2 separate regions of the Homo sapiens genome follow, and region 2 is linked to region 1. Evidence: fine-mapped expression QTL. A gene starts in region 1. The other region holds a variant in brackets. All regions are shown on one strand. Distances are from middle to middle. Region 1 holds the start of ZNF770 (zinc finger protein 770). Region 2 has its middle 26 kb from the start of NANOGP8.

The links.
Region 2: its variant is fine-mapped to the expression of ZNF770 in whole blood (TOPMed, PIP above 0.99).

Annotation. Positions count from the first base shown.
Region 1 is chr15:34,986,216-34,990,607 of GRCh38, forward strand. ZNF770 (zinc finger protein 770) reads right to left here and starts at 2,072. Exons shown (of 3, transcript NM_014106.4): 1 at 1,901-2,072; 2 at 1,342-1,458. LOC105370764 (a long non-coding RNA gene) reads left to right here and starts at 2,143. Exons shown (of 5, transcript NR_188212.1): 1 at 2,143-2,269; 2 at 3,470-3,595. RefSeq lists enhancers at 571-630, 711-760, 2,167-2,256.
Region 2 is chr15:35,056,778-35,061,169 of GRCh38, forward strand. No RefSeq gene overlaps it. Among named protein-coding and RNA genes, the nearest start is that of NANOGP8, 26 kb to the right of the region's middle. The variant C/A (reference allele first, on the strand shown) is at 2,441.

The DNA of each region.
Region 1 (4,392 bases):
TTTAAATAAAAATCATCTAATTACAGGCCAAATGGAAAATGCCACATAAATCCACGCAAAATAAAACAATCTGACTGTAAGCCAGTATAGTAGTAAAATATATCATATAACCCAGATATCAATGTTAACCAACAATCAACTCTTGGTGCTATGAATATGCATTTTCAGTAGCTTGAATTAGAGAAATTAGAGGTGAACAAGCTCCAAAGTCTCTAAACATGCCGATACAGAGCAACAGTCATGATAATTAAAATTAAGTCATGAATCCAGTGAACTGCAAAGAACTTGGCAGCAATTAGGTGCCAAGGTAGTCAATCAGGACAATGAGTCAAACCAAAAGTAATCAAGCCTTTATTCACTTACTGTGACAGTGCAAGCAAGTGGTAAAAAGAGGCACTGGCTCCCCAGTGGTCTACTAAATACAAGGACACTGGGTGAGGGTCAGTTGATGCAGTGCATATGAGGTAATCCTCTCACTGAAAGGAGCCCCTAACAAAAATCTCCTGCCTCTTATGGAACTTCAGAATAGGAAAGGGAGGGGAAGGTCTAGGAGTGAAAGAAGCTGGGTCAAAAATGGAGAAAAGTGTCTTAGCCACGGTCCTTCCTAGGAGGGCCTCCAAATGGAGGTACCCAGGCTAGGAAAGAAGTTATGGGATTTGCATATCTAGCAGGAGGGGCAGGGCAAGTCCTTGACTGCAACCCCCTCCAGAAAACTGCAATGCACCGGCCCATATCGAGTATGGTGTGGGAGGACAGCTTGGCCCTTGAGGCCAGTCAGGCAAAGCCTGGTAATTGTCCAATGTCAGGACTGAATGATCACACAGGATTTTGGTATAAAGCCAGATTCAATTCCTTTTGTATGTTTCTTCTTCCCTTTAATAAATGCTTTCGTGGAACACGCCTAAAAGAAAAAAATCACACACCACAACTACCTCTGATTAAAACAGGGATTGGCTACCTACAGCTCCTGTACCAAAAAGGAGCTACGGTTAATCATCCATTGTTAGCACTAAGATTGGATAACTGTTGTCACTTGCCTCCCACCACGTGGAAAAGCACTTACTGGGAGCCCTAGATTGTTAGAACCATTAGTGGCAAGTGGTGATCCTATCTCCTGTTTATGAGAGTCAGGTTAGGGATCCTCACCTCACGCACTCATGGAGCTCCAAATCCCATTTCAACCGATTTTTGTTGATAACATAAAAATAAAAAAGACTGTAATTTTTCTTATCTTAAACTGAAATAAAAGAATAGTAGATCTGCTCAGTGGTTCAATCCAGAATTTATCCTGACAAGAACAAGATACTCTACGTGAAGACTGTAAAAACTGTAAAAACTGACCTCAATAATATCCAATGTTGCCTCAAGGCTGAAAGCCTGTTGATTTTCTTGTCTTGACTAGTACCATTAAAACGATGTGAGGATTTCACGAAAGTAAGCGAACAAGAAATGAAAGACCTAAGAGAAACACACACAACTTTCAGTTGGGGAATAATCTCCGGCGGCTGCTTCTGCCCCACTCGCCCCGGGCCCATTCTCTTGGCCTTGAACCCTCACCTCTCCCTCCCAGTGGACTACACTGGACAAAGGACACTGACACACAGTCCTCGTTCTAAAGGCCCACAACCAATAATAAGCACGTAATGGTCGAGCCGAGTCCAGAAACCACAAAATCCCACGCCAGGAAAGGAAGGGTAAGGGTAAAAACTGCTTTGGCTGCAGCCAGGATGAAAACGCCACATGTGATACAACCCACAGCAACAACAAAAAAAAATCCCTCTACGCCTTCCTCTCAAATTTCTGCTCCGCGTGAGACGCACTCAATAGGTGGGGAAGTGAGAAAGCAAAAGGAGCTCAGGAACTGAGGTTGTGGAGCCCCCGTTCTTGGGTCCCCAGGCACCTTGGCGGTATTGAGGCAGGTCCGACCCTCCCTGGGGGTCGCTCCACTTCTCAGTCGGGTTTCTGAAGTCCTCCTCACGCATCTGGAGCTGGCGAGGGCCCGGGAGGCACGCACCTCAGGCCCAGGTGCCGCGAAGGCAGCGCGCGCACGTCCGCAGGGCCGGCGCGGCAACGGGCTGAGCGCGCAGGCGCGGCGCTCTGGCGCGCCCAGGGACACAGTCCGGCTGGAAACAAGCTCCCCCCAATTTCAGGGCCGTTGTCGCCTCCGGGCGGTCCGCGGGTCCCGAGCGGACTGGGACTCTGGAGACGTGCCCCCAACCCCACCGCCATTCACCCTGTCATTGCAGGGGAGAGAACAGAATAAAGACGGGTACATTTTCCATCTCACCTCTGAACCTCGGTTAGGAAAACGCTGTAGCCCTGACTAGTGGGCTCAAGGGCCGACTGGAAAAGGGCGAGTCAGCGTTCAAAGCCGATTCGGGGCAGCCCTCTCTAACGCAGAGGGCCGAGGATAAGAAGACGACAATGTGTTAGGGGCCCTCCGGGCTAGGACTGTCCTCACCACTTTGTACATTGCCAAAGTAAATATAACGTAGAGGTCAAGCGCAGGCGCTTTGTGGGCAGACATGACTGAGCTCCACTCGCGACTCCTCTAATGGCGTGCCAGCTGCGGACCTCATTAGCCCCGCCTCAATCATTCAGTATGTTTTGGTTGTCTACAGTGTACGAAGCCCTGTTCTCACAATTAGATAAAATGAGTGTGAAGTGCTCAACATAATTCCTAGTGTAGTAGGCCTTCAAAGAACTATTATCATTATTAATTACTCATATAGAATACAACTTTATGAAATGATAGGATCCCATTTTAAGATGAGGAAAATGAGGCTATCAGAGACGTTAAGGAACTTAATGTCACACAGTTAATAAACGATAGAGGTGCGATTTGAACACAGGTTGTCTAATACCAGACCTGCATTTATAACTGCTGCTTCCCAAGTTATAGATATTTCAGCATTTTATGTAGTCACAATTGAAGACCAAATATTTAGTTACAGACTAAGTTGGCATGTTATTACTGAATAAGATGCTAAGGTATCTACTAAAGATTTTAAGTGCAAAAGGCATTAGAGAAGAATTTACTGTGGATTTTTTGCAGGTTCTGATTGTAATTGTATCACCTTGAGAAAGGAGGAAATGAAAGCAGATTATCAGGCATACTTTTTTAACTCTAAGCAACTTTTTGCATTACTTTCTAAGGACCATCAGCAACAAAAATCAATGGTTTCTAATGTTGATATATTTTCCTCTACCAAAAAAATTAAAGCAGCTGAGCCAACAAAAATTCTCTGTTTTGGATGTGTTAGCATGAGGAAATGGCGAATAGGAAATGAGCTTTTGCTTCTCATGTAGGAACCCTGAAGGAGTCAGATTTGGGAGGGGTTGAAGTCTGCTTCCAACAGAAGCAGGGGTGGAGAAGGGAAAGGAAAGACTTCTGGTGTCCTAAATGCTAGTCCCAAAGTGGGGATGCTGTTTGTCCGGATAACCCTTGTAAATCTGCTCCATTCTGCAGCTACTCCTGGGAAACTTAACTCAGCCAAATAATGCAAACAATTGCATCCATCATCAGCCACATCAGCCTTAGGAGATACATCCATATCATGAGAAAACACTACCTGAAATTGGGGACCACTGGAGGGTGAGATTCGTTCTTTATCCATTACCTGCAAAACAAATTGGCCTTTGCATGGAGAGTCTGAATATATATTGAGTGTGAAAGCAGTTAGGACTTGAATAGGCTATTCTCCAAGGCCACATGCCCCATGTCATAACCTCCCCCATTTACCGTGAGAGCTATCTCAGGAGCCTTCTGGAAAAAAAAGAGAAATTAACATGAATAAGAGTAATCAAGGAAGATTTCATTGAATATGTGAAATTTGAACTAGCAGTAGTGGGTAGACTATGAATAAATAAAAAATGTGGGGGCAGGACAGAACATGGTAGGGCAGAGGTGGCAGGGTGAAGAAAAGATAGTATGAGAATGAAAAATAAAGGGGGTGCATGACATACGTTTGAATTAGTATCTTAATGCTGCAGCTTACTAGTTGTGTCCTTAGAAGTTATTTAACCTAGGCTGGGCGCGGTGGCTCACACCTGTAATCCCAGCACTTAGGGAGGCCGAGGCGGGTAGATCATGGGTCAGGAGTTCGAGACCAGCCTGGCCAACATTGTGAAACCCTGTCTCTACTAAAAATACAAAAATTAGCCGGGCGTGGTGGCACGTGCCTGTAGTCCCAGCTACTCAGGAGGCTGAGGTGGGAGGATTGCTCTAGCCCAGGAGTTAAAGGCTGTAGTGAGCCGTGTTCATGCCACTGCACTCCAGCCTGGATGACAGAGCAAGACTCTGTCTTAAATAAATAATAATAAAAATAGAAAAGATGTGCCACTGCACTCTAGCCTGGGCGACAGAGCGAGACTCTGTTTCAAAAAAAGAAA
Region 2 (4,392 bases), 71 kb after region 1:
CTGTTTTGTTCTGCCCTGCTGCTGGTCTTCGGCAGACAGCAGTGATCATGCAGCAGTTTATCAAGGATGAGACTGAGACAGTGTCTGTGTGTTCTATTATCCTTGGCGGAGGACGATCTCTTTCCCTTGGAGACACGAGTGGAGGCTATTAACCTCAGGGAGTCTGTTGGGGCAGAGACACCTGAAATCAGTCAGGGCTCACTGCAACCTCTGTCTCCTAGGTTCAAGCGATTCTCCTGCCTCAGCCTCCTGAGTAGCTGAGATTACAGGCGCATGCCACTTCACCTGGCTAATTTTTTTGTATTTTTTAGTGGAGATGGGGTTTCACCATGTTGGCCAGTCTGGTCTCCAACTCCTGACCTCAAGTGATCCACCTGCCTCGGCCTCCCAAAGTGCTGGGATTACAGGCATGAGCTACTGCGCCCAGCCTTGTAAATTGCTTTTTTTACTAAAAAATGTATTTAAGTATTCCTCTGTTAACAGGTTGTTACCAATGTTTGGCCACTACAAATCATGCATATACATACTTGTTTCCGATATACTGCATTTATTTGTTTTCTTCTCTGCCAATGAAGAAATCACAAGGGGAAAAAATCATAAGATCGGTGAGATGATTAAATGAGGTAATGCTTATAAAAGCATGTAATACAGCACCTGGTACAGAGTAAATGTTCAATCAAGCCCCTATTATTATCACTTAAATATTACTGGTTCCATAAATTACTTTTTCTTGTCTCAGAAAGCCTTCGCCTTAGGGGCTTCTGACTAGTGGAAATAGAGCCCTATGTCCTCAAGGTCATGGGCAAGGGCAGGTCACGGGCAAGGGCAGGGCATGTCTGTATAAAACGCCTTCCTGACTAGGTGTGGTGGCTCACGTCTGTAATCCCAGCACTTTGGGAGGCCGAGGTGGGCAGATCACCTGAGGTAAGGAGTTCAAGACCAGCCTGGCCAGCATGGTGAAACCCCATCTTTACTAAAAATACAAAAATTAGCTGGGCATGGTGGTAGGTGCCTGTAATCCCAGCTACTCGGGAGGCTGAGGCAGGAGAATTGCTTGAACTTGGGAGGCAGAGGTTGCAGTGAGCCGAGATCGTGCCATTGCACTCCAGCCTGGGCAACAAGAGAGAAACTCCGTCTCAAAAAAAAAAAAAAAAAAAAAGAAAAAAAGCCTTCCTAAAGCAGGGTTCCAAATGAGGATCCTGAAGTTCTTGTGGGCTATAATCCCTTTCAGTTCCCAAATGAAAAGTGAATCTGATGATTTATTCATTTCTGTAGGGGCTAAAATGCCATTTGAAGTTATCATTGAGGCATTAAATTTTCCTCATCTGCAAAGCGTAAGGTTCCAAATACCTAGAGAGGTGAGGCTGTGAGAGATGGGAGGATGAGAGAGGTCGTTCAAAGGCTGCGAAGGAGAATGAGATAGAAGAAGTGGGCCTGCCACTCTTGGAACGTGAGCTTTGTTTGGAGGAACTCCTGTAGAGACTGGAGGGGGAAGTGGCAAGGTAAAGAGCTGCCTCCACTTTTATGTTTCATAATACGTTTTTTAGATGTTTCTTCCCAGCCAGAAATTGTCAATATGATTAAGAGTCAGCTGTCTGACCTCAAAAGAAGGTGGCCAGCTGCCCTTTAAATATGTCTCTGCAGTTGAGGGCATCCAATAAAAGCCAACTTGGTATGAAAAACCAATTTTTTTCTTTGCTGTTTATGTTTTTTTTTCTTAAAAAGCTTTGAACAACATAGCAAAAAATAAGAAAGGAGGGCTGTGCTCCAGATGTGCAAGCTTTCCTAGAAGAAAAAAAGATCTGAAAAGCTTCTTCACCACCTGTCCTGGTGAGGCAAGCAGAGGACTTGACTCCACATGAGAAAGCTAATCAAAGAAAAAACTCTACTTGTCAGAATTTTCTCTCTAGTTTTCATCGTACAGAGGCACATCCTGACAAACTATAGAGTCCCTCCACTGACCAAAAGCGAAAAACAAAAAGACAAAGTAGCTTAAAATAGGGCTGAGTAGGACTGAAAGTTTAAGGAACTATTAAAAACAAAGGAAACACGCTAATTCTACCCAACAAAGAAATAGGAAACACGTCAGAAGACAGAAGGGAAAGAAAGAAAACCTGCTACCCATGTTTAATCTTTGTCTACTCCCAGAAGACTCACAAAATTTAAAACAAGTACAAATGAAAATACAGAACACACTTTAACAAAAACAGATCAGTAGGTGGTTACCATGTGCCTACTTAGAGCAGCCCCTATTTCTCAGGGCCACGAGAGTGATAGCACAGATGAATTAAGCCCACACGCCCAAAGCAAAAATTTCATTTTGGTCTTTAGTCTTATTCTCTTCTCAACTAGAGACTAACAAAAGTAAGTCAAACCACTTCGAGTTTCAGCAGTTTTCCTTCTTATTTCTGTACTAAAGAGTTATGAAAATGGCTCTTGG[C/A]AAATATGAGGAAAAGGAAAAGCAACAAGCCTTATTTGACTGCACTGAGGCTGTCTGTGCAGACTTTTCAGAGGTGGGGTTGTCAGTGCAAGAGACGAACAGCACATAGGGCTCTTAGCCTTGCCACTTTGTTTGAAAGGCTATAGAAACTGACTGGTAGGTGCCAGGCATTGTGATAGTTATTTTATATATATATATATATTTGCATTTAATCCTTCAGTAGCCCAGTGAAGTGGAAATTTGTATTTCTGTTTGTTTTTGTTTGTTTGTTTTTTGAGACGGAGTCTCACTCTGTCCCCCAGGCTGGAGTGCGGTGGCATGATCTTGGCTCACTGCAAGCTCCGCCTCCCAGGTTCACGCCATTCTCCTGCCTTAGCCTCCCGAGTAGCTGGGACTACAGGCGCCCGCCACCACGCCTGGCTAATTTTTTGTATTTTTAGTAGAGATGGTATTTTTTGTATTTTAGTAGTTTCACCTTGTTAGCCAGGATGGTCTCAATCTCCTGACCTCATGATCCGCCCGCCTTGGCCTCCCAAAGTGCTGGGATTACAGGCGTGAGCCACCGCGCCCGGCTTGTATTTCTGTTTTACACAAGAACTCAGAGTTCAAGTATCATGGTCAAAGTCATGTATTCTAAATGGGGGTGGGCCAATATTTGAACAAAGATCAGAGAAGAAGCAATGTATTTGCTGTGCTGTGAGCAGGCATATTTGCTCTGAAATTTGAACTGAGAGGCAGTTCTGAAATGTTCTGCAGACTGGGGCCCAGAATTGGTGCCCTGACAAACCAGAGCCACAGGCATGATGGTATAGTAGCCAAGGAATCAGCTCTCTATGGCAGGAATGAAGCACAGGCAGAGAGAAGGAGAGACCAGGAGCCACTGAGGGACAGGTGTGTGTGCAACATTTAAAGCTACAGATAGGCCAGGTGCAGTGGCTCACGCCTATAATCCCAGCACTCTGGGAGGCCAAGGCAGGCAGATTGCTTGAGCTCAGGAGTCAGAGACCAGCCTAGGCAACATGGCCAAACCCTGTCTCTACAAAAAATACAAAAATTAGCTGGGTGTGGTGGTGTATCCTTGTACATCCAGTTACTTGGGAGGCTGAAGCGGGAGGATTGCTTGAGCCAGGGAGGTGGATGCTGCAGTGAGCCAAGATCACACCACTGCACTCCTGCCTGGGGCACAGAGGGACACCCTGTCTCAAAAAAATTAAAAAATTAAAAAAAAAAAAAAGCTACAGATGATGCCTGGACCCTCTCCCAGGCCCACCGGATGGAAATCACCAGGAACTCAGACCACAGCTGAGAACACTGATCTGGCTTGAGTAGATTCTGTTCCTTGAAATCTTAAAATGACTTTGACCTTCCCCAGACACCTTGTCCTTTCTACTACACCTCATTGCCCTTATCTAAGCATAGAAATGCAGTGATTAATTCAGGAAAAAGGTAACAAAAAGAAGGAGAATACAAAAAGAAGGAATCTGATGGCTAGAAGCGTCCTCTCAGCTCAGCTAATGACCACTTTTGTGGTTATTTTTGTTTAACATTGTCAGAGTTTGCTGAAAGAATGTGGAATCTCATTTCTTGAATATTTGCAAAGAGGACATGTAGCCACCTACCAGAATGATTCCAGTGCCAATGCTTCTGCCTGAAAATCAATGAGTGTGTCTTTCTGTTTTTTTTTTTTTTTTCTCCAGACGGAGTCTTGTTCTGTCACCCAGGTTGGAGTGCAGTGGCATGATCTCGACTCACTGCAACCTCTGCCCCCGGGTTCAAGCGATTCTCCTGCCTCAGCCTCCCGAGTAGCTGAGACTACAGGCACATGTCACCACGCCTGGCTAATTTTTGTATTCTTAGTAGAGACGGGGTTTCACCATGTTGGCCAGGCTGGCCTCGAACTCTTGACCTCATGATCTGCCCACCTTGGCCTCCCAAAGCGCTGCGATTACAGG